Homo sapiens: one gene and its partners. The protein of the gene in region 2 purifies or fractionates together with the protein of the main gene of each other region. This does not show direct contact. Each region holds a gene or a part of one and is shown on either strand. Other genes may lie near its edges. The genes, in order: GARS1, LARS1, CCT8 and IARS1.

Region 1 (7,037 bases), on a different chromosome or scaffold from region 2:
GGAAATGAATAATACTGTTAAGATCAAAAACATATACACAAAACCTCAGTAAATCTAAAATTCTGAATGGAAAATTTTAGGGATACTTAGAGGCATTTTCCATTTTTTCTAATAAAGGGCATGCCTTTGGATAAGAAAATGAGATGAACGTGTGGCTTCAACAGTATCAAAATGTAAGAAATAATTTTCTAAACCATGAGTAATTACTAAAACAATGAGCTTCAAGCAAGGGATAAAATTACACTCCACAAGTATCAAAATAAATCAGCAGATGATTCAACAGCCAAATTAAGAAAGTTTTCAATGTAAATGAAGAAGGAGAAATTATTTTAGCTATGTTGGAAAGTTAACTATCACAGAGAAAAAAAGCATGCTAAAAAAAAAATTAGGACAACAGTGGAAAAGTATCCAGTAATTCCCATGAAAAACAACATATTAGGGAGTTCTATATTCAGGCAGAGAGAGAGAGAGAGATCGGTGTAAAGAAAATAGGTATAATCACAGTATTGGTTTTTTGTTTTTTGCCCAAGGAAGTAAATAAAATTTAAGAGGTGAGCCTCAGTAGACCTCATGACTAAACATGGTGTTGGAGAAATGTACTTTGCCTAAACGGAATAGCCAACAGATGAGGTGAGACACCAGCAACATATATACATGAGCACATGCATCTTCCCAGGGAGACGTGCAGTTTTGATCACATTCTTAGGGTGGTCTGTGACCCAACAAAAGGATAAGAACTACTTCTAATATAGAAAGTATTCCTGCAATTGGTAAAAGGTCAGAATAAATTATCTCTGTGGTCTCTTTTTTGTCTTCTCTAAAATTTGTCAGCTTAAATATTATACAAATTATAAAACTTTAGGCCTATAGGCAAACTGAGAAAAGCAAGGACAGAAAAGTCAGGACCTGCTCATGAGGTTCTAAGAATAATAGCATGAAATCAGGGTCCAAGCAGAGGCAGATCAAGTAGCCAGTGAGAAAGTGCTCATCAAGTTATCTGCCCCGAAGTCTCCACACCAGTGCTGAACACTACCCATCATCAGTCACTCCTGTGGTTTTAGCTATTAAATCCAGAAAAGTAGTTTCCAAGGTCAGACAAATTGAATGCCTATTAACACGGACTTGTTAGTTTGGGCTGAAATAAAGGGTTAGTCACAAAAGAGAGAAGAAAATAAAAATGCAAAAAAAGAGACGCTATACAGGACAGAATTAACCTCTGCTTCATTACAATGTGGCCAGGGTCAGCATAATGGGAAATGCAACAGTCATTAAACACTGAAAGAAGGACAGCGACCACCTAGGTTACTCTGATAACATCTCTAGAGTACTCACCTGGGCCAAAACACTTTCCATTTCTGATTTCTTTTCGACAGAACACTTCTTATCAGACATCAATTTCTGTAAATGAGCTGTAAGAACAGTGTTGACATATATCAATCAATGGGAAAAAGGACAATGCACTTTTCAGTTTCAATGCTAGACAATTAAAAAGTAAATCCAAGCATAAAGTTCTTAATTTACATGAATCCCACAGTTGATTTTACAACAGCAGTCATGGTATTGTCTTGATTCATTTGCTAATTAGAAAAATTATCTGTATATAACTAATTATCTACATATAACTTTTTTAAAAAATAAAGGACTTGATCTATATACTTAAGATCTGTGCACTTTGCTCTTTGAATGTTATGCCTCAATAAAAAATTTAATGAAAGACATCTGAGAGAAAGTTTAAACCTTTTATTTTGATCAATCCTACCTGAAGGAGATGAAGAACCTCACCTTTTAATAGATGGTCAGCACGAAAACATTCTCCATTTTTTACGTCTTTCACCATGAAGTCAGCAAATTTGTCTACATGGCCAGAGGTCCTAAATTAACAAATGCCAACCCAATTTGTCATTCTCATACAAATTACACATAGATATTACCTTATAAGATAATTCCCCATCAATATTTATATCCATCTCAAAGATGGAAGCTCCCATATCTATAGTAATGATGTATCCATGACAGTAATGGATGCCAGAGAAAATTCTTCCTCAAATCTATTTCTCACCCTCTCCCACATTCTTCCTTCCCATAAGAAAGAAGACATTAACTAGACAATAAAAAGACAATTCTTTTCTACAAGTTGTCATAAAGTCTGTACTATTCTTCAGGATCAATTAATCCATGCCTATGCCATTATTATTAGTGATCTAAGCAAAGGCCAAAATCACTGGGAATTTGACTAGTTAAGAATTCATGGCAGCTCAGTATAGACATTGAACCTTAAGGGAAGTGTTTTCTGCCACTGAAACCTGTACTGACATTGGTATTATCTCTACAAAGTTCCTATTGGTGGAACAAGTAGCTAAAATGATAGGTAGTCCTGATCTTATAGAGCCATCATTCAGAATTCCTCCTCTTCATTGGCTGAAATTATTAAGAGAACCTAACGGATGCCAATAGTAAAAATTAGCTCTCCACCAGTCAACCTTAAATGAATAATGACGAGTTACAAAATGGCAAGAATTCCTCTTTCAGGCCGGGCGCAGTGGCTCACGCCTGTAATCCCAGCACTTTGGGAGGCCGAGGCAGGCGGATCACGAGGTCAGGAGATCGAGACCATGGTGAAACCCCGTCTCTACTAAAAATACAAAAAAATTAGCCAGGCACGGTGGCAGGTGCCTGTAGTCCCAGCTGCTCTGGAGGCTGAGGCAAGAGAATGGCGTGAACCCGAGAGGCGGAGCTTGCAGTGAGCAGAGATCGCCCCACTGCACTCCAGCCTGGGGGACAGAGCGAGACTCCATCTCAAAAAATAAATAAATAAATAAAAGAATTCCTTTCAGTTTCACATTCTGAAATTCTGCCCTACTTTGGGAGGCCGAGGCGGGCGGATCACGAGGTCAGGAGATCGAGACCACCCTGGCTAACATGGTGAAACCCCGTCTGTACTAAAAATACAAAAAAAAAATTAGCCAGACGTGGTGGTGGGTGCCTGTAGTCCCAGCTACTTGGGAGGCTGAGGCAGGAGAATGGCGTGAACCTGGGAGGCAGAGCTTGCAGTGAGCCGAGATCAAGCCACTGCATTCCAGCTTGGGCGACAGAGCAAGACTCCATCTCACACACACAAAAAAAGGAAATTCTGCCCTACTTTCAATAACGTTGGTAGGAATAATCTAAGTTTCTGCATTGAAACTTTAAAACAAATAGTATTTAACTGAAAATCTCTACAAGTATACCTTTGCTCAGAACTTGTATTAAGGAAATAATCAAGGATATACCCAAAAATCCATCTATCAAGATATTCGGTGCAGTCAAAAATGAGAAACACTTTAATGCTTTCAATATGGCACAAACTAACATATTATGGCACTTCCATAAAACAGAATACTATGCTATCATTAAAAATGCTTTAGATGAATAGTTAATGATATGAGTATATGTTCATCAATATTACATGAAAATAAGCAGTGTACTGCTAACACTGAAATACATAGGGACGTACAGAAAAAACAGGAAGGACAAACACAATCATCTTAACATAGCTATCTGTGAGCAGAAGGTATACATTTCTTTGCTTTTCCATATTTTTCAGATTTTCTACATGAAATGAGTAGTTCTTTATAATCAGGAAGTTATTTAGATAAGTATATTAAATAATTTAATAAGTTATTTTATTTAAAGTAGGATACCCCCACTCCAAAGTAAGATCTCACTTTAAAACTGGCTCAGGGGTGAGCATGGTGCAATCGATCTCCAGGATCTGTTCCTCTTGGATAAAGTGCTGCCTCCAGGTCTGAATAATATTGTTCTTCAAAGCACAGCCAACTGGCCCAAAGTCATACAGACCACTAACACCTATAGAATATGAGAGGAAAACACATACTTTACCTTGTTACTCTGAACAAATGAAGGCAAGGAGACATGAGAAACTGATACCTATACTCCCTAAAAGTGTATTCAAGTCAACAATGCAAATCCCTCAATACTGAAGAACCTTACTTTCAGCTAGCTGATGGAAGTAAAATAAAAAAGCTCTTACGCCATTTACTAATTCTATATTTGTAATTTCAAGTAGGACTAGCCCAAAATCTACAACAAAAGTTCCCCCTTAGAGAACAGAATGAAAAAGCAGATTACAGTTTTCTGCCGTAAAAATTACAAAATAATTTCTCACCACATCTGATAACAATGATCTATAATTTTAGCATCCAATTCTCTAATTTTTTCCTGGGTATTTGAGGCACTATTTAACCTCAAAAGGGTAAACATTTACAGATCCACTTAGCCAAACTCAAGTCAACTTTCAGTGGCAAAGTACTATATGTCTAATGTTGTTGTAATAATCCGTTGACTATGAAAAATATAGTTTTACATTTCATCAGTGAATTGTATTTGCCTATATACCTTCATATGGCATTCACAGTGATTTATCTACATCCCTGGGAAGAATGTTTTCTCCTGGCAGATGACCATAAAGAATAATCTAAGGACTGTTTTATCACTGCCCCTGTGTGAAGGGGCATAGTATAGTTAGCCAGTACTACAATGGCCCTCTGTTACTCTTCAGTCTCCATTGCATTTTAAAAAGAGTACATGAGTACACAGACACATCAAATACATACATGGGCCTCCAACAATTCCCTACATCCTAATCAAAAAAAGTGCTGTCCAGGAATAAATGCAGTGGAGAAAAATAACAGGTATCACACCAAATGGTGACTCCAAGCAAACAAAAGCAAAACATCCATCCTCTGCTTTGTGGCCTGATACAAGTGGATACCAACAGGCAAGCCATGTTCTTGATTTAAGTATAATATTAGAGCCACTAACAACACAATAGTTCTTTTTGTCATTAATCCCTTACCTCCATAAATAGCAAAAGCTTGATCATAGAAAAACCTCCTCTTCAGGGTATCTTCCATTTTTGCTCGGTCTACAATATCATCTTTGGGCTGTAACGCCAGCTCCTGTTAGAGATTAAATAAAAAGTGAGTGAGTGGAGGGGTGGGTGGGAATCTGAACTTATATATCTGAATTTAGTTTATTCCTCACCAGAATTAAATATAAAATTTATCAAACAGACAAGATTTTGATAGGTTAAAAACAATAGAAGCCATAGGTCTTTTTTTCCCTTTGAGTAATATAAAAGATATCTTTACTTAATCATTTAGGAAAATATATGATCATTTCCAAGATTACAAGACTAAGCTTGACCAGGTGCGGTGGCTCACACCTGTAATCCCAGTACTTTGGGAGGCCGAAGTGGGTGGATCACCTGAGGTCAGGAGTTCAAGCCCAGCCTGGCCAACATGGCAAAACACTGTCTCTACTAAAAATACAAAAATTAGCTGGGCTTGGTGGTGGGCACCTGTAATCCCAGCTACTTGGGAGGCTGAGGCAGGAGAATCACTTGAACCCGGGAGGCAGAGGTTGCAGTGAGCTGAGATCGCACCATTGCACTCCAGCCTGGGCAACAGGGCGAGACTCCATCTCAAAAAAAAAACAAGACTAAGTTTACTTTGATGTAGATACTGATAAGCAATATAAAGCAATATTTGAATTGTCAGTGGATTGCTATAGCAAAATGGTTACTTTAAAACCCCAAAACAACTTAAGTTTGGTGATGGGAGATCTATTGTTTGAAAGGTCTGGGAGCAGGTATCAAATAAACAGACCTTTTCCTTAAAACAAACAAACAAACAAAAATCATTATTTTCAGGCATAAGAGAAGTCGTAAAGAAGAGCACAATCCTTTCCATGGAAATTCATATAGCGTATTGAGTCCAGCATTTGCAGGGTCAGGAAGGCTTTATTAAAAAGTTGACATTTTGAGTTGCATTTTGAAAGGATGAGGAGTCTACCAGGTAGAGGGAAAGGAGAAGGCGGCATTATGGATAAACAGATAAACCAAATGATACTTGTTCAGAAACTTTTCTAGGTCTCTCCCATCCAAAGAAATTAAAGATGAACAATCCTATACCTACTTATGTTCCTATTTTAGCATCCCAGGACTCACCTTTGCTTCCAGAACCCTCTTGCGGGCTTTGAGCTCAGCCACTGCTTTGTCTACGTCTACTTGGGGTGCTTTATCTTCTTTGAGTTTTCGCACAAGATCTCCCTAGCCAAGAAAGAGAATTTATATTCAGGATTGGTTTCAGAAGTTAAGAAATGTTAGGAATGTGTTTTTAAGCGTGCCTTTTAAAAAGTCTATGTAAGAATGATGCAATTCAGGCCAAGCGTGGTGGCTCACGCCTGTAATACCAGCACTTTGAAAGGCCCTCCTCACCATCTGAGATCAGGAGTTTCAGACCATCCTGGCCAACATGGTGATACACCATCGCTACTGAAAATACAAAAATTAGCCGGCCGTGGTGGTGGGCACCTGTAATCCCAGCCACTTGGGAGGCTGAGGCAGGAGAATCACTTGAACCCGGAAGGCGGAGGTTGCACTGAGCTAAGATCATGCTACTACACTCCAGCCTGGGTGACAAAGTGAGACTCCGTCTCAAAATGAAAAAAAAAAAAAAAAAAAAAAAGAATGATGCAATTCAAATGTTTATTATGTGAGTGATCATTATGAATCAAGGTCTCTGCCCTCTTCATTTAATAATCTAGAAGAACACACGGGCAAGTTAACAAATAACTGCTCACATGGTGAATTTTTTCCTTTGGGTATAGAGGGGTGAAAAAGGAGGAGACAAAAGCATTGATTAAAAAGTAGGAAAGAGCAAGATTTGTACTGAGAACACAGAAGAACCAATAAATTGACCACCTTCTTAAATCTCTCTCCTCTCGCTTACAAAAAAAAATAAAAACATTATTCAGTTTTCCTCCCACTTCTCTGACCATTCTTCTCAGTCACTGCTGGCTCATCTTCCTTTGCCTTTCTCTTTACAGTTGGAATTTTTTCCTTGCTAATATTTCTGAATTATTTTATTAACTTCCAACAACTTATACTAATTCCATATTTATAGTAATATGGTGGAATAGGTCATCTGAGTAAACAAACAAAATATTACCTATATAGGATGAAAAACTTTCAGCTG
Region 2 (7,037 bases):
AAGGGAGGGGGGAAAAAAGGCAACAATTCAGAGTACTCCATAACATGAGAGGCTTGGAAAGCATTTGAATATAAGGTCTCTTAAAAATAATTTGCAGTAGAATAGCCAGATATACAGTTTTTTAATGTATAATTGATTATATGTAAATTAAGAATTGATGAAATAAGATGACATATCACTTTTTTTCCTGCAACTTTTATACTCACCCATTTTTCTTCTCTCCAAAAATATTTTCGACTAATATATTTAACAAAGATACTAAACACAGAAGATGAAATTTATAAAAAGGTTTATTATAAAATAAAAGAGCTGGATTATGGTTTAACTACAGTTAACTGGTTATTACAATCCCTGGCCCTCTTACCTCAAGCGAATTAGTCAGATAGACTATATTCTCCATAAGCACAGCCTTTTCATCAAATTCTAATTGCAAATCCAGAATACGAGGCCCCATCTTCTCCAGATTTTCCTAATAGCCAAAATGGTATGGAAAAACAAAATCACAGTAAGAATATGTTGGAAAACATACTTCCTCCAAAGTAATCATTCTTCTCTCAACTGATAAAATCTTCAGATTTCAGGAGTTAAAGGAAAGGCCTTGGACTCATGATTTCCTTTACCTACATTTGCTTGTTAATGAAATTTACTAGCTCCAAATAATTATCTTTTAAAGTATTATAAGATTATGGCAGCACTGAAAAGATGGGAAGGCACAAGGTTTTCAGATTTATAAAATAAATACGGTTTTATGATTGTTTATTTAGACTGACTTAACATGCAAGCCCAAAGAATTCACTTTACAGGGAATCAGCCAAATGTGTGAAAATATCCCTTTAAGTTACCCAAAAAAAACAAAATTTTAATTTTCTGAGATACCACCTTCTTAAAGCTGTTTCAGAGAATAGTGAATTAATAATATCCAAACAAAAAATCCCCAAAGATATTTCTGCAAAGTTTAAAGAAAAAAAACTCATACTACATGAGTACTCAAACATGGCATGTAAAAAATAATTTCTTATTCTTAATTTTCTTGGGTAGTCAATATTTGCTGTGCAAAATAGAATCCTAGAGATCCAAGTACATATGCAGATATAACTACCTAGAACATGTTATACTTAATGAAAGTGACCTGATATTATTCCTGCTACTCACTGTTTTCGCTTACTATGCAAGTTCTATTTCTTTTTCTCATGGAAGTGCTAGAAAGTCATTTTCTTATTCCCAGATGTATTAATCCCTTCCAAAATTTGCAAAACCACTAATTTGCCTGGCAAATCACCAACATAATTTTAAAAATATATTACCACTCAAACGGTCTGATGCTGGTTCTTCAAATTTAAATGAGATCCTAAAGAAGCCAACTCTTGAATCTAATATCATTTTATACACACACACACACGCACACACACACTCTATATATATATACATATACACATAACTACTTTTCAAATAGGTTTCCCTGGATTCTTTTAAAACATGTCATCAAAATTAATTGCCTTTGCAACCATCAATGGAATATTTTGTTGGATCCACATGTTGACAGAGATTTGGCATTATGACCAATGACACTAGCCACTGGGGAACCAACGAACTATGAACATACCAGCACTTACATTACAACTTGATTAGTGTAGGTCAACACAGGATTCTAAATTACTTCTGAAACTTAAAATACCCTGAGGATCAAATAGTGACTTTGGTCTAAGAGAATTAAAAACCTTTTCCAAGAATACTAATCTATTATAATATTGAAGAAGTTAAGAGGTCTGGTCTCCATCAGGCATCTGCAGCCAAGAAGACACAAGAATTAAAGGACAGTACAAGAATAACTACAATATGCTTAGTAGGCTGGAAGATACTAATTTGTATTTTTAAACAACATTTACTGAGCCTACTTCTTGACTAGTGCTACTTAAGTGTGTTAGGTACACTATTTTATTTACTCCTCACAGCACTCCTAAAAAGTTTGGTTCTATAGTATCCTCATTTTATGGATGAAAAATCCTGTAGCCCAGAAAATTTAAGTGATTTGTCCAAGGTCTCAAAACTAAGGAGTGACTGATACACAGAATTTCAACCAAGATTTTTCTGGCCCCATAGCCTGCGATCTTAAGCAATATAAGCCTTCTTTCGGTTTCTTTTTGTCAAGAAATCCAGTAATACATCAGCGACGTATATGAAGAAAACTAAGGGTCTAACCCAATAATTCTCAATGGTAAGAAGTGGAAGGTGATTCTGCCCCCAGCGGACATTTGGCAATGTCTGGAGATATTTTTCATTGTCATAACTAGCAGGAAAGGTAGTTCTACTGGCTTCTAATGAGTAGAAGCCAGGGATGCCATTACATATCCTACAGTGCACAAGAAAGTGCCCCACAAGAACTATCTAGCCCAAAATACCAACAGAGCTATGCTGAGACACCCTGGTCTAACCACTATAACCAATGTTTACCCTGTTAAGCTATACCTATACAAATGTTGAATCCTGGTTCCAGGAATAGGGTCTAGGAAATGCAAGCCTCTATAAGCCTAATGTAAGCCAAAAGAGTTTGAAAGAAGGGAAGGTAGAATATGAAGGGAATAGTTCAGTGCAGCCATTCTAAACCAATTTTTCTCCCACAATAATATTTTTCACATACTCAGCAATTCCACAAGTAAACCCAAAATCTGATAGATCATTTCTCTCAGTCATTGATTGAAAAGTGCTATTTTAGCAGATTTCTGGCAGGAGACTATGTCCAAGGCTTTTCCCCATCCTTCTATTGTCCCATCTAACCATTGCTCATGTGGTCACAGCTGCATAAGGTCCACAGCTTACCTTAATCATGGCAACAAATGGCATGACTTTCTTCATGTATTTCTTCAGTTCTGGCATACTGCCTAGTTCACTAGCAATGACTTTGTTGTCAGGCAGTTTTCCGTTATTGGCCTAAGAAAAGGAAGGAGGGAGAGTAATGTAGAAAAAAAAGTCTCAAGAATAAGGCAGAACAGTAGATGTGACCAGGCATAGAATGGTGGCCTCTATCAATCCTTAGAGAACAGCAGAAAAGTGTCCAGCCCTAGCATCACGGGGAAGTGAAAGCTCAATGAACAATGCAGAAGGAACTCTCCTATTCTCTATAAATTAACAACACATACTTTTTAGTTTAGAAGAGAAAAAGAAGTGATTTGTGTTGAATATTTCTCCTGTTCAGAAACTAAATGGTCTCATAAAAACTTGTTTTCAAATTTCTAAAAGCATTTTATTAGTCATATTAAAATAAAAAATTACACAACTATCATACAAGTTTATATAATGTCTGCTTTTGGACACTTGGAAGAAACTGTTACCACAATTGTGAAAAGAATCCCTAGCTACTGACCTGTTAAAAACAGAATCATTTCTATCTACTCAAAAATAAATGTCCATATCATATATCACTGATGAGTACAATCCAAGTGTGCTTTAAATGAATCTAAATTCATTTCTTTCTACAAATATTAACGGTCCCCTCAATAGAGTGAGAAATAAAGCAACTGGTCTTTTCAAAGTTTTGGGCAACTTGTTTTCTCTTTATTGTAAAAGAAGGGTTGGGAATGAATCTAAATGAAAAGGAACATATAATACAATTTCAAATAATCTATTTTCAATTCTAACTTTTACTAAAGTACATGGGAAAAAAATATTCTACTTGTTAATATATTCCTCTGAAACACACGAAAAAGAAAAAGGGTGGGAAACACTCCTTTGCCTTATGTCACCAAAATGGTGCCACATTCAACATAAGAACACTCTTCGTGATTATAAATGAACATTCTTTTCATTCCTGTGGATGAAAACATACAAAAATCTAAAAGACAGCTGCTAATGCCAAAAGATACCACTGTTTTCAATTATCTAGCAAATGAATAGTAAGTAAAAAAACAACTTCAAAAAGAACAGAGGTGATGCATTTTTTAATACCTAAGACATTACATATTATATTTGGGTTCTTCCACTGCTTCCTTGAAATTGCTGGTATGAATATATAATCCACTGAGGTAGTTTCACTTTTGTGCCAACCAAAGTAGCTTTTATCTTTTATTTACCTTAATTCAAAATCTGCAAGCAGATTCTAAAGGCCACCTTCTATTTCTATCATATATACTCAAAGGTGGAAATAGTTCTCCACAAAAATAGACTCACAAGAAATACAAAAACATTTGCTCTTCTCTATCAAATTTTACATATGTAAAAGCAGCTTTTCTTAGCATTTCTTAATTAACTATGAAAAGTGTTGAGGCAAAATTCCAATAATGGTCTAGAATATCAAAGCTAAGAATTTTTCCTTTACGTTTCTTCTTTACATTTTGACCACAATCCGTATTTTGTCTCTCTTTTTAAAGTGCACCTTAGTGGTCTGCATCTAGCAATAACTGTTTTAATAACCTAAGCAAAAAAGCCAAAGTTCATAAACATACTTTGTTTCTACATTTTGAATGCAGAGGAAAAATACATTTTTTTCTTTCAGGAAAACTTAGATCTAAGTTATTGAGTTCCCTTTAAGTGGATTTATCATTACCTGGCACAGCCAAAAATGTCTTCAAGCTCTACATTTCTATAGGTAATTATCAAACCAAACAACATTTAAAGTACTCAAGAACAAAGCTTCACTTTTTTCCAAACAATAAACAAGGTTACGATTTGAAATAATTTAATGAATGAATATAATGAATGAATAAATTTAATGAATGACTCCCACTGCTCAAGTTACAACAAATTCCAAAGGCAAACTCTGTCCTTTTATTTCATCATTTCAACTACACATATGAAAACCCCCAATTCTTTTGATTACATTCAACTAGATCCAATGTATTTTTGTATAAATTTTTCAGAAATGAGAGGAAAACAGCAGCTTTTCCCTCAGCATCCATTTAAGAGCCACCAAGAATAACAAAAGGATGCTGTCTGCCTAGAGGGAATGAAACAAAGCTGCCTATCTTTCTTCTCCCAGACATTGCCAACATCCTAAAAACAAAAACAACATAGGGAGCATACAACACCATCAGGGGGGAAAAGTCTACTGAGAGCATCACCTCAAAGTGTTTACGTAGAACAGACAGGGTGGTATGTTGCCAAGGTGGATAGTTCTTTGCCACATAGATGGTGCAATGTGAGGGCTTCTGCAGGGGTTGTTTGTCAGTCTTCTAGACGGTAAAAGAAAGGAAAAACATTCAATAGCTTTTATATAAACCAAAAATGAGAAGAACCCTCCCCCAACATACACCACCACGGTCTTCACCATTAATGAAAATCTTTTTAACTTTCATTATTGTTAAATGTTATCTGATCAATAACTTTTAAGGAATAATCCTTTAAAAAAAAAAACAAAAAAACTTTACCTTCCCTTTAGCTGGCATCATATAGTTCTTGAGTCGTAGTCTAAGGTCATGTGTTACTTCCATAAGATACTGTGAGGAGTGTATTAAAACTTCATTAACAGGACCTGCCACAGGCCATGAAGCATTCATAATTGAGTCAGGCTTTTAAAAAAAGAAAAACAAAAAAACCTTCAGTGAGATTAGACAATATAACTATTTTACGGTTCTTGATTATAGTTTCATACCAAGGATACCATCTGTAATTGTGTGCTCAGAGTTCAAACTTGACTACACATAACACACTTGCACAGCCCCTGATCTAATGTTCCCTAGAATTCAAGCTGTGAAGTCTGACTCTACATTCTTAATTAGCATCCATTTGTACAAGCATATTAATACCCACACACATATGCTCACTTTCAAAGAAAATTATGTAATGCTAATTTGCCTAAATTTAATCATTATTATATAAATTATGCATACACTCAGTTTTTATCCTGCTAATACATCCAGTATTCAAGTACGGTTATTTGGTATATAGATCATGAGCACATTTCTGTATTGTTCATGCATTTAAAAATACAAAAGAGCCTAGCTAATATGGCTGGAAAGGAGTTATTAAACCAGCCAATCTATTTATCTGTAAGCCTGGGAGAAATAACTGAATTTATATTCATAGTAAGAATGCTACTATCCCTGAATATTAAGTCCTATATATGCCAGAAGTTTTATATAAAACAAGAATACTTACACAAATATACACAAATATACACCTATATCTTTGTTTTTAAGCAGCTCATAACAATTGTTTATATCTTTCTCAATATTTTCACCTTTTAAAAATATGTATGCACTGTTGTGTATATAAATAAGGGCACATATATCCATCTGAATAGGAGATAGCTCTGGTTTAACCCGTCATAATTATGATGCTGAATCCAGCATTACTCTTGAATTACTCACTTTCAGACTTTCTCTCTTAAGTAACAATATTAGCACAACACTTATTTAATGAAGCCAAAATCAAAACCACTCGAAACATTTTAAATGCATGAAGGTACCTTTCCCAGGAGTGTCCAGATGTGCTCACACAAATGTGGACAGAATGGAGCGAGGAGAAGTGTCTGAACTTCAATAAACCGGAACACAAGTTCTCTGTGCATCCCTTCCACAGCCAATTCACGGTACTTATCTTTTGCGGCCTATAAAATTTGAAATTATTTACCATTTCCCTCACCTTCTTTAAAATAAAAATAAAGGGAAAAATTGCAGTATCTTGGTTTTAACACATTTTTAAGTTTCTAGTCTTTTAAAAATCCATAACAAATTACTGTAAAGGTTTTACTTTAAGAATCTGCAAGTATTTATCTTTGTCCAAAGTATATGGCAGTTTTATACTAATAATTCTCAAAAAAAGAATTTTTTTACAGACAGTTTGTAACTGAGACATAAAAGTTGAACAACTTTAACTGTATATTAAGGGTGACTGCTCTTAGCAGCATATAGGATATTAAATATAAAAAAAGACTATAAATACAACACATTGCTATGCCCAGCCATTTATCCTTATTTAACCACAACTCTGAAAACCAAGTTATATAAAACTCAATGTGATATTTTACACAGCTCATTGCGTAAAGCTACATTTTTACTTTAAGCACTTTAAATGCCAAACTTGAGGAAATACTGACACCTTGT
Region 3 (7,037 bases), on a different chromosome or scaffold from region 2:
ACATACAGTATTCTGCTGCTTCATAATATATGCACATATATCTTCATATTTTTTTGCCAAACCTTTATTTCTTCAGTCAACTATTATCTAATGACTTTGAACACCAACGTAGTGAAATGATTTTAAAGGGAATGTTTACTTGTTTTGCCAGGGAACAGTGTTGATAAAGACTGCTGAAGAATTGATGAATTTTAGTAAGGGAGAAGAAAACCTCATGGATGCACAAGTCAAAGCTATTGCTGATACTGGTGCAAATGTCGTAGTAACAGGTGGCAAAGTGGCAGACATGGCTCTTCATTATGCAAATAAATATAATATCATGTTAGTGAGGTAAGAAAAAGCCGATTTTTTTTTTTACCTATATCATAAATGGTTTTTTGGTGGTGAAAACACTAAACGAAATAGACCATGAAGACTGTTAATAAAGGGAAAGTAAAGGTACTAGGTCAAATAGCAGAAGGATTTAGTTTGGGGAGGGGTCAGGAAACACCTCTGAGAAAACATAAATTTAAGCTGAGAGCTTGAAGAACCAATTACCAGATAATTGAAGAGGGAAAAGCATTCCAGGCAAAAGGAACAACTTGTCCAAGAGACTAGACACAAGCTTGGTGCATTGCCTATCAGAGTATGGAGTCAGGAAGATCCCTTTTAATCCATGAACACATTTATGGTGCACACTAGACAACTTAACCCATTTCTACCTACCACCATCCCTAGTACCTAATAAAATGTGCAAAATAAATCACTCTTGTTCACAGAACATTGATTGCACAAAGTAAAGCAAAAATTTTCTATATGCTGTTGAGTTTTGTAAGGGTTTCTCTGGTGTTTTAGAACTATAAACCACTGACATCCTAAAGTGACTTCCATTCTCCCAATTCTAGAACAATGCCATACAACACAGGCTTAAGATGTGGTACTATTGGCCAGCTGGACTCACTCAGAGAGTCAGGAATCAGCTTCCTGGCCTTAGTGTTCATTGCAATCCAGACATGTTCTGAGTTAAAATCCATTGTCAAAGGAATGTGACATGGGGGCTGGTATACAGGTTCCTCTTTAATTTGAACTTTATATGCTATCTGAAATTGATTAAAACTTTTATTAAGGTCTTTGTGTTTTTTAAAGGCTAAACTCAAAATGGGATCTCCGAAGACTTTGTAAAACTGTTGGTGCTACAGCTCTTCCTAGATTGGTATGTATTTTGGAAAACACTAAAAGATAGTTGAACAAGATGGAATTTTTATTACAACAGTCACTTTCTTACAGACACCTCCTGTCCTTGAAGAAATGGGACACTGTGACAGTGTTTACCTCTCAGAAGTTGGAGATACTCAGGTGGTGGTTTTTAAGCATGGTATGTAGGAATGGTAAAACATGTTTAAGTGTAGGGCTTTAGCTTCTTGTATTTAATCACCAAATATATTTAATTTTTTGATAGAAAAGGAAGATGGCGCCATTTCTACCATAGTACTTCGAGGCTCTACAGACAATCTGATGGATGACATAGAAAGGGCAGTAGACGATGGTGTTAATACTTTCAAAGTTCTTACAAGGGTCAGTATCAGCAATATTCTTAGTAGTTTGTAAGGTCTGAGTAATTTGTATGGTCTTAAAAGTACAGTTTGCAGACTCTTGCACATCATGAGAACTTCAGAATGAGTGGTTTATATGAAATGAAGCACCTGTTTTTGTTTTTACCTAAGACTTAAGTGTCCATTGTTAGTGAATATGATAGTTTCCAAAAAAGATTGTACAGAGGAGTTAACAGCAAAACAGAGCTTTAAAAAAAATTGTTTATCGTTGTTTTCCATTGTAATGTACTGTTAGTTGCTAAAGCAGTTCTTAGTGCTATATCTGTGGATATGCAAAAATGATACGGTACTATTCCCATTCTTCACTTTGGTCCTTTTCATACACCAGACACTGTGCACTAAGAAAATTTGCCCCACCCACTCATTTTTACCAAATTTGTAATATGTATTTGAGTAACAATGACTGATAAAAACTCCTGTTTGGTGGGGTACTGGAATGTGAAAAGATTAGAAAACTGCAAACTGATTTTTAGTGAATTTGTTTTGTGTTCATTTTTTTTTTGGTGGGGGCGCTACATACAGGATAAACGTCTTGTACCCGGAGGTGGAGCAACAGAAATTGAATTAGCCAAACAGATCACATCATATGGAGAGGTACAGCTTTTTCTGTATAAATTGACTTTCTTTCCATTGCTTGAATAAAAGACAGTAATTAACGCATTTTTGTTTTAGACATGTCCTGGACTTGAACAGTATGCTATTAAGAAGTTTGCTGAGGCATTTGAAGCTATTCCCCGCGCACTGGCAGAAAACTCTGGAGTTAAGGCCAATGAAGTAATCTCTAAACTTTATGCAGTACATCAAGAAGGAAATAAAAACGTTGGATTAGATATTGAGGTATTTGAAAAAACACTGAACTTAAATTGCTTTATTTGGGGAATGCACAACCTAAAAATAGTATGAGTTTAAAAGAAATATCAATGAGAAACAGTGTTCTGATTTGGGAGCAGATTATTTTCTTAGTTTTTACATAGGTTGTCTGATGGAGGAACGTTTCATTTTCCTTCTGTTTTATTGATAGTCTTTTGTTCTGTAGTGTGTAGTCAGCCCAGTTCTGTATCCATTGATTCAACCAACCACAGATTGAAAATATTTGGAAAAACTAAAGACATTTAAAAATACACTATAACAACTATTTACACTATGTTATATAATTAATCTGGAGACGATTTAAAGTATATGAGAGGATGTGCATAGATTATATCCAAACACCATGCCATTTTATGTAAGGGATTTGAGCATCCACAGATTTTGGCATCCTTGGAGGTGCTAGAACCAATCCTCACATACTAAAGGATGACTCTATAAGGTAGGACTGTGCTTGGTTACTTTCCAGTACTATTTAAGGAGCTATGTGAGGCTTTTTGTGGGTGTAAACATTTTCACATAAAAGGATTTTAAATGAAAGGATGAAAATTGTGTTTGACAGGCTGAAGTCCCTGCTGTAAAGGACATGCTGGAAGCTGGTATTCTAGATACTTACCTGGGAAAATATTGGGCTATCAAACTCGCTACTAATGCTGCAGTCACTGTACTTAGAGTGGATCAGGTGAGCAAAGTGAAATTTTGATCTTTAAAAATACTCATTTGCATACTGTTTAATAGTATATTTTCCCAGAACTAGAACATAGCATAGTTCTAATTCAAAGGATTCTTAGTCCTCACCTATTAGAGATACTATGTGCCCCCCTCCAATTTTTTTCTTCTATTATAAATTGTATTGAATATATAACTTTCAAACCTTTTAGCCTTAGAACCCATTTGTACAAATAATTTAGAGAGTAAATTTAATATATAATACTAACATGGAATTTGGAAGGACCATAAAGCTCTCAAGCAGACATTGCAGACCACCAGCTTGAAGGAAAATGGAGTCTCTAGCTGTCTGCAGATAAGAGGACTGGGCATTGAAAATTTTTTCTGCTATGACAAATTACAGCTTGAGATACTAAAAGATGTTAAAGGTGTTTAAAATCATATTTCTACCCTTTTTTTTTTTTTTTTGAAGAATTGTGGTAGACTGTTCTATATATAGAAGTAAACCTGAAATCATAATTATTTTTCCAAAAGGTATTTTCTGGCAAACTTAATTAAATACATTTCCCCACAAAATTCTAGAAGTAATTAATAAGCAATGACTATTTATAAGTACTTAATAGAAAATTTTAATTTGCTAGAGGGACAGTATACATCCATTAGGTAAAAGTCATATGTCATATTAAAGGTGGAGTAAGTCCTAAGTAGAAATCAGTGGAAAGACATTTCAGCTTTTAAGTACAGTAAGGACCAGTTGGTGGTAATTATAACAAATTTATTGGAAGAACTATGATAGCAAGAGATGACCAAAAATGGAACTGGATATTTAGTTTCAAGTCATTGAAAATAAGCAGAAACTAGATGTTTATGTACCAGATTAACGGGTTTCTCTGTCAGCTTATTAGGTGATTTTCAATGGAAGAATATGTTTGAGTTCTTAAATAGAAACCTAAGAAAATACTTATTCTAGAAATTAGAATGTGGCTAAGAATAAAAGGGGAAACCAAAAATAGCAGGGACGGAAGAAGCTAAGTAGACTGCAGCATAAGGAACGCAGAAATTCCAACTGTGTTAGGAACTTTGAATGTCAATTATTCAAGCAAGACAATAACCACCACCCTTGGTCACAAAGGCAGTTTGAATTTTGGCTTTAAACTAGGAAGTCTGCTTTATCTTATGGTAGGGGAAGTTGTTGGTTGATCTGTTCCCCCAGTCTTTGCACTCTATGTGAAGTATGTATCTAAAGAACCCATCCAACTGTATTAACCAGTTTGTGTATATAGTGTATAGTATAATGAACCTAAATTTGTATAGTATATATTCTAGAAAAGGAATTGCACATCAAGCTTTAAGCATTGGATAGTGTAGTACGGACTGGATTAATCTTTGTTGGAATGTCTATTTCACTAGTTCTCAAAGTATGGTCCCAAAATAGTATCAACATCACCTGAGAACTTGTTAGAATGACAGTTCTCAGCCAGGTATGGTGGCTCACACCTGTAGTCCCAGCTACGCAGGAGGCTGAGGTGGGAGGATCACTTGAGCCCAGGAGTTGAAGGCTGCAGTGAGCTGTGATCACATCATGGCACTCCAGCCTGGTTGACAGAGTGACACTCCATCTTTTAAAAAACTAAAAATAAATAAGAAATACAGATTCTTGGAGGCCAGGCGCGGTGGCTCACGCCTGTAATCCCAGCACTTTGGGAGGCCAAGGCAGGAGGATCACGAGGTCAGGAGGTTGAGACCATCCTGGCTAACATGGTGAAATCCCGTCTCTACTAAAAAAAACAAAAAATTAGCTGGGCGTGGTGGCAGATGCCTGTAGTCCCAGCTACTCGGGAGGCTGAGGCAGGAGCATGGCATGAACCTGGGAGGTGGAGCCTGCAGTGAGTAGAGATGGCACCACTGTACTCCAGCCTGGGCGACAGAGCAAGACTCCATCTCAAAAAAAAAAAAAAAAGAAGAAATACAGATTCTCAGATGTCACTCCAGACCCACCAATATCAGAAATGCTGGAAGAGGCCTAGCAGTCTGTTTTAATGAGCACTTTTGATTATGGTGCCCACTAAAGTTTGGGAACTACTTGTTTTAGTGTTTGTTTCTTTTTTTTCTTTGAGATGGAGTCTTGCTCTGTCACCAGGCTGGAGTGCAGTGGTGTGATCTCAGCTTACTGCAACCGCCACCTCCCAGGTTCAAGCAATTCTGCTGCATCAGCCTCCCGAGTAGCTGGGACTACAGGCGCATGCCACCATGCCCACCTAATTTTTTTTTGTATTTTTAGTAGAGACGGGGTTTCACCATGTTGGCCAGGATGGTCTCGATCTCTTGACCTCGTGATCTGTCCGCCTTGGCCTCCCAAAGTGCTGGGATTACAGGCATGAGCCACCACACCCAGCTTTTAGTTACTTTTTAAAATCAATGTGCACTTAGGTTCTAAAATTATGCTTAATGCCTTTAATTCAGTCTGAAATTACTCTCAATTGGTAACATGTTATTCTGAGAATTTCAGGTTTAGGTATCTTTTTTGTTGTTGTTGTGATAAGGTCTTACTCTATCACCCAGGCTGGAGGACAGTGGCACAATCATAATCAGCTCACCACAGCCTCAAAATCCTGAGTTCCAGTGATTCTTCTGCCTTAACATCCCGAATAGCTGGGACTGTAGGCAGGTGCTGTCATGGTTGGCTGAGATATATATCATATATATCTGATATGTATATATCACACATATCATATGTATATATCATACATATGTATATATCATACATATCTCATATATATCATATATATCTCATATCATACATATACATGATATATATATCATACATATATGTATGATATATATTATATATGATATATGTATGATATATGTATCGTATATATGATACATATATCATATATATATTATCAAATGTTATATATATATTTTATATATATATATATTTTTAGTTTTTGTAGACTAGGTCTCACTTTGTTGCCCAGGCTGGTCTCAAACTCCTGGCCTCAAACCTTGGCCTCCCAAAGTGCTAGGATTACAGGCATGAGCCACTGCCCAGTTCAGGTTTGCAGATGGTAATTAAGATGTTTTCCAGCCGAGCGCAGTGGCTCACACCTATAATCCCAACACTTTGGGAGGCTGAGGCGGGTGGATCATGCAGGAGTTTGAGACCAGCCTGGCCAACGTGGTGAAACCCCGTCTCTACTAAAAGTAAAAACTTAGCCGGGCATGGTGATGGGCACCTGTAATCCCAGTTACTCAGGAGGCTGAGGCAGGAGAATTGCTTGAACCCAGGAGGCAGAGGTTGCATTGAGCCAAGATCGCGCCACTGCACTCTCTAGCCTGGGCAACAGAGCAAGACTCCGTCTCAAAAAGAAAAAAAAAAAAAAAGCTAAAACCTATTTATTTTAGATAAAGTAAGGTGAGGTTTGTGGCGCTTTTTTTTTTAAGTTGGGAACTTAGATTTTTGTTTATGAAAATTCCTGGCTGCTTGAATGATTCTCATTTACAGGTTTTAGAAAATTTCAGTGTTAAACTTTGTATATACTTATGTATCAACTACTTTAGATTATAATGGCAAAGCTGGCAGGTGGGCCTAAAGCTCCTAAACCACAAGGAAATTGGGACAGAGATGGTTGGCAAGACACATCTCATATATAAATAGCAAATCAGGTGCCAAACTGACCGACTTACACCAGTGATGCATGCACATATTTTCACTTTCAGCTTTTTGAGTTATTGAAGTGCATGTCTTGGAATGTTCACTAATCTCTGTGGATTTTATTGCGGTTATCCATAAAAGCAGTAAACTTTCTCATGCGCTGAAAGTTTACAATTGAATTTCTAACAAGGGAGCTAGCAAACTCTGTGCTGTAGTGTTTTATATGCAGTACATAATTATACCAAGAAGAC
Region 4 (4,028 bases), on a different chromosome or scaffold from region 2:
AAGTTCTGGTTGTTTCCTCTATTTTCTCCAACTTGTGGGTTTTTGTGTGAATGCATCTGTTGTAGTAGCCATAGGGATGTATCATTCAGATCTCCCTTCAAAAGAATCTGACATGAGGAGTGTAGTTGGTACTTTCAGATCCATCAAGGCATTTGTGCGAAGGCCACGCTCCCCTTGGTCTCCTCCCAGAAACTGACTTGAGGAAGTCAGAGAAACAAAGCCAGGCTATTTCTGCCCAATTCTGAACTCTACTAAAAGGAATCCTTGCTTGGGAACTCTCCATTGGCCTGACCAAGACTTCATCTTAGAGTTGCACTGCAGTCTAAGTTTTTGCTAATCAATCTTCATTTTCTCTTTTTACAGGTGTCAGACCCACACTGCAGTCTGAAGGCTCTCTCGACCTACGCTTGCTCCATCTCCCGTTTATCCTCCATTTATGTTTCCTCTAATAAATTCTTGCACATCTAACTTTGTCATGTCATCTGCTTCTCTGAGGACTCAAATTATCACCTGGGATTTTGGAAAGAAGTTTTATTAGATGTCTAGTCCACTGTCTTAATAAGAAACCACCATGAAGTTTTTATGTTCTTCAAAGTTTACACATTTCAAGTTTCATTTATCTATGGGAGAATGAATTACTTTCAACACATTTATATCTGAGTTTGTTTATTGTTCTGATTTACTGAAACTTAAAATATTCCATCAAATTATCCAGGAAAATCCAGGTGGCAGAAATATATAATATGTCCATTTCATCAAGAGGTCTCAAATAAATTTTAAAAGGCCAGAAAATGATATATATACTATGCCATTTAAATCACTTCTATCTTCTGTACTTAAGAACTCAAGTATAGAAATAAACTGTGGGCTGAAGTAACATTGTAACCTGCTCCCAACATGACTGCATAGGTGTCTAAGGTTAAGTGTGAAGATTACTGTGAGGTCTCAAGTTACTTGACTAATCAATCCCATTTGAATTTCAATCCAAGCAGCATATTTTACACACACCTGAAGGAAATATCTTCAGTGTGTTCATGTGTGTGTCTATGTGCATGTATGTGTAGGGGATAGGTGTAATTAGGGAAGGGCTGACCGAACAACATTGATAAGTACATGCTAGAAGTCTGCTGTTGTTGGTAACACAGAAACATACACAGTCTTCATATTCAAAGTCTTCACGGGGATGTCTTCTGTAATTTCTAGAATGGAAAGAAAAAGTTGAAAAAAAATCAGTATTTTACCTATTGGGGGTGAATATTTAAAAAAATGTTAACTGCTTGTGTAGTAAGGAATTTGGCCTTATCCTAAGAGTTCTGCCTTTTGTCCCAGCTCCTGAGGTGAACCTCTAAATCCTTGGAATTTCCTGGTAGGAATCTTTGTTTCTCATGGTGGGTATGTTCACCAAACCTGACAGTTGTTGCTAATGAGACAATTCAGGGTAGTGCTGGCCAGGACAGAAAGACCAAGTATATGATTTAGGATGGGGACTTTGGGTCACATGGTATATCAGTTGAGAAAGACAGCAATCATGCCTACAGAATGAAACCTCAACAGAAACTGGACACCAAGGCTCGAGTGAGCTTCCCTGGTTGGTAATATAGTCTCTGTGTTGTCAGATGTAAGGGATGAGAGGAAGAAACATTATCCATGACTCCAGGGTCTCTCTCTCTCTCTCACTCTCGCTGGTTCTAACGTGTATCCTTTCCCTACCCTAATTCAAACCATGAGTGTAATACCTTTTAGTGAGTCTGAGTCCTCCTAGCAGGTTACTGAACCTGAGGGTGGTTTAGGAAAATCCCTGGAACTTGCAGTTGGTGCCAGCAGTGATGGGGGTCTTGTGTGGATCTTTCCCTGAGTAGAATCCTCACTCCTTGCAGGTGGAGTTAGATATCGGGCAGACTCCTGGAGCCTTCTGGAGGACTATGCCATCACTTCACAGTTTGGCTAACTCTGGGTACTGCCAAGATGGTTATTTTTCCTCATACACAGATACTTCCTATGTCTACAAAAAAAGCCTAGAGGCTGTGCCAACTCAGTATCCCAGATATGTGGTTTCAAAATATGATTCTCTATAATTTGAAGAACAGCTATTTTCTACGTCTGGAGAAGTAAAAGTACATAATAAGCCTAGGACATGTTGCTACGTGAGAAAGCAAGAATTTACCAAAGACAAAGGATCATGTTAAAGAATACAGGATCCAATATGGCCAATGACGAAAACTCTGAGCATCCAAAAATATAACCCAAATGCAATTGATTGAAATATACTGAATATACAACTCAAAAACAAAAAAAAAGAAAATTTAAAGTTATCTGCCTACTGTGGAGCATTTTGCTTCTAGTCAGATCTGAATTTAAAGCAAACAGATGAGCTTCCTTTAAAAATAGCTCTTGTCCTACCTAGCAGCAATCCTAGATGTGAGAATACTCTCAAAGCTACTTCCTTAATAGATAATTACAGGACCTGGAGATGATGTTTAGAGTTTAGTGGAGCAAGCAAGAAGACATCTAAGGGTTTCTAAAATGGTCAACATTTTGTGGCTCTTCTAATTTACCAAGTTATTGATACTTTATGAAAGACAATTCTGAGAGAAAAGGCATAATGAAAACGAAGCTATAGATACTAGATTGGAAAGATACTGAATTAGAAAAAGTTCCAACTTTGTGGTAATCTTAGATAAATCACTAAACATTTAAAAGTTCTCACCCACTAAACTTTTGCCTAACTAACGTCACAGAGTAAAGAGAATACAGAAAGGCAGCACAGGTTAAGAATGGTTCTGTGAATTGCAGGTAGTATTATAAATACATAATTCATACAGACATGGTTCTACCCCTGACCAGGTTCAATCATGCCACTGCATTTGCTTGCAAGAACAAGTGAGAGATAAATGTCATCTTCAGCTCCACTGCACAACAGTACTTGGTGACCAAAGGATTTGAGGGACAAGAAGAGTTAAGAATTATCTCTAAAGTTTTATATAAGCTTATCAAAATAGAAAGCTACATTATTAGATGATCTTTACTACCATACCACAATGAAAGAGCCAAGTGTGTTCGAGGGAGAGTGAAAAAAGCCTTTGATAGAGTGAAAGACTCATGGACAGAATTAGCAAGACAGGGAAGGCCCAGAGCAGGAAGGATCTTGTGTGGAAGGGAAGATTCTGAGGCATAAGAGAATAAGGAGCTTTGGGGGCTCTAAGCAAGGGAACAAAATCAAGGCAGGAATGTTCATGAAGATAGCTCTGGTGAAGAGTACAGACTGCAGACTGGTGACTTAGATGGATGATGAGGCCCAATGATGAGATGAGAGGGAAAACGACAAAGGAGAGTCACTGAAAATAAACCCAGGGAGGGAAGGAGGAACCCAAGAAGAAATAGAGCTTTAGTATTTAACATCATGACAGAAAATTTAAAAGTACGATATGCAACTAAATTTAAAAAAAAAAGCTGCACAGGAAGAAAACGGGAGAATTACACAGAGGCCAAAAATAATGACTCCCATGGGGTCTGGTGGCTTAATGCTTTTGGCACTAAAGAGCTAGGAAAGCAGGGAAAGAAAAGCCTCCGGTATATACAAACCGGGAAGTCCAACAAATCTCTGCTGAAGAAACTGGAACTTCAAATAAGAAACCCATAGCAAAAGGGTTAATTTGAGTAAGTTCCTTCACCACAAGAGAAAAAGTGAAGAGAATGTAATCGGTTAATAATGGCCTTCCAAAGATATGCCCAGGTTCTAAATTCCCAGGAGCTGTGAATGTTCACTTTATTTGGAAAAAGAGGAAACAGAAGAGAAGGAGGCAATGTGACCACGGAGTCAGAGACTGAAGTGATGTGGCCACAAGTCAAGGGATGCCTGGCGCCACCATAAGCTAGAAGAAGTATATAAGGAATTCTCCCACAGAGCCTTCAGAGAGACTGTGGCCTTTCTGACACCCTAATTTCAGTGTCTGGCCTCCAGAGCTGTGAGATGACTTGAGCCATCCCATTTGTGGAAATTTGTTGCAGCAGCCACAGAAACCAATACA

What was found.
Region 1: the proteins of LARS1 (region 2) and GARS1 purify together in Homo sapiens (affinity purification with mass spectrometry; 2 studies listed by BioGRID, with this or other methods). This does not show direct contact.
Region 3: the proteins of LARS1 (region 2) and CCT8 purify together in Homo sapiens (affinity purification with mass spectrometry; 2 studies listed by BioGRID, with this or other methods). This does not show direct contact.
Region 4: the proteins of LARS1 (region 2) and IARS1 purify together in Homo sapiens (affinity purification with mass spectrometry; 8 studies listed by BioGRID and IntAct, with this or other methods). This does not show direct contact.

What each region holds. Positions count from the first base shown.
Region 1 is NC_000007.14:30,597,868-30,604,904, reverse strand, and holds part of GARS1 (glycine--tRNA ligase isoform 1 precursor), read right to left. Parts: intron 6,110-7,037; coding exon 6,008-6,109; intron 4,959-6,007; coding exon 4,856-4,958; intron 3,847-4,855; coding exon 3,705-3,846; intron 1,872-3,704; coding exon 1,783-1,871; intron 1,410-1,782; coding exon 1,333-1,409; intron 1-1,332. UniProt on the Homo sapiens protein: Catalyzes the ATP-dependent ligation of glycine to the 3'-end of its cognate tRNA, via the formation of an aminoacyl-adenylate intermediate (Gly-AMP).
Region 2 is NC_000005.10:146,123,618-146,130,654, forward strand, and holds part of LARS1 (leucine--tRNA ligase, cytoplasmic), read right to left. Parts: intron 6,542-7,037; coding exon 6,401-6,541; intron 5,502-6,400; coding exon 5,361-5,501; intron 5,166-5,360; coding exon 5,055-5,165; intron 2,929-5,054; coding exon 2,818-2,928; intron 470-2,817; coding exon 365-469; intron 1-364. UniProt on the Homo sapiens protein: Aminoacyl-tRNA synthetase that catalyzes the specific attachment of leucine to its cognate tRNA (tRNA(Leu)).
Region 3 is NC_000021.9:29,056,645-29,063,681, reverse strand, and holds part of CCT8 (T-complex protein 1 subunit theta), read left to right. Parts: intron 1-151; coding exon 152-330; intron 331-1,125; coding exon 1,126-1,192; intron 1,193-1,266; coding exon 1,267-1,354; intron 1,355-1,438; coding exon 1,439-1,554; intron 1,555-2,114; coding exon 2,115-2,186; intron 2,187-2,264; coding exon 2,265-2,429; intron 2,430-3,021; coding exon 3,022-3,141; intron 3,142-7,037. UniProt on the Homo sapiens protein: Component of the chaperonin-containing T-complex (TRiC), a molecular chaperone complex that assists the folding of actin, tubulin and other proteins upon ATP hydrolysis.
Region 4 is NC_000009.12:92,209,691-92,213,718, forward strand, and holds the end of IARS1 (isoleucine--tRNA ligase, cytoplasmic), read right to left. Parts: intron 1,200-4,028; coding exon 1,117-1,199; 3' UTR 517-1,116; downstream 1-516. UniProt on the Homo sapiens protein: Catalyzes the specific attachment of an amino acid to its cognate tRNA in a 2 step reaction: the amino acid (AA) is first activated by ATP to form AA-AMP and then transferred to the acceptor end of the tRNA.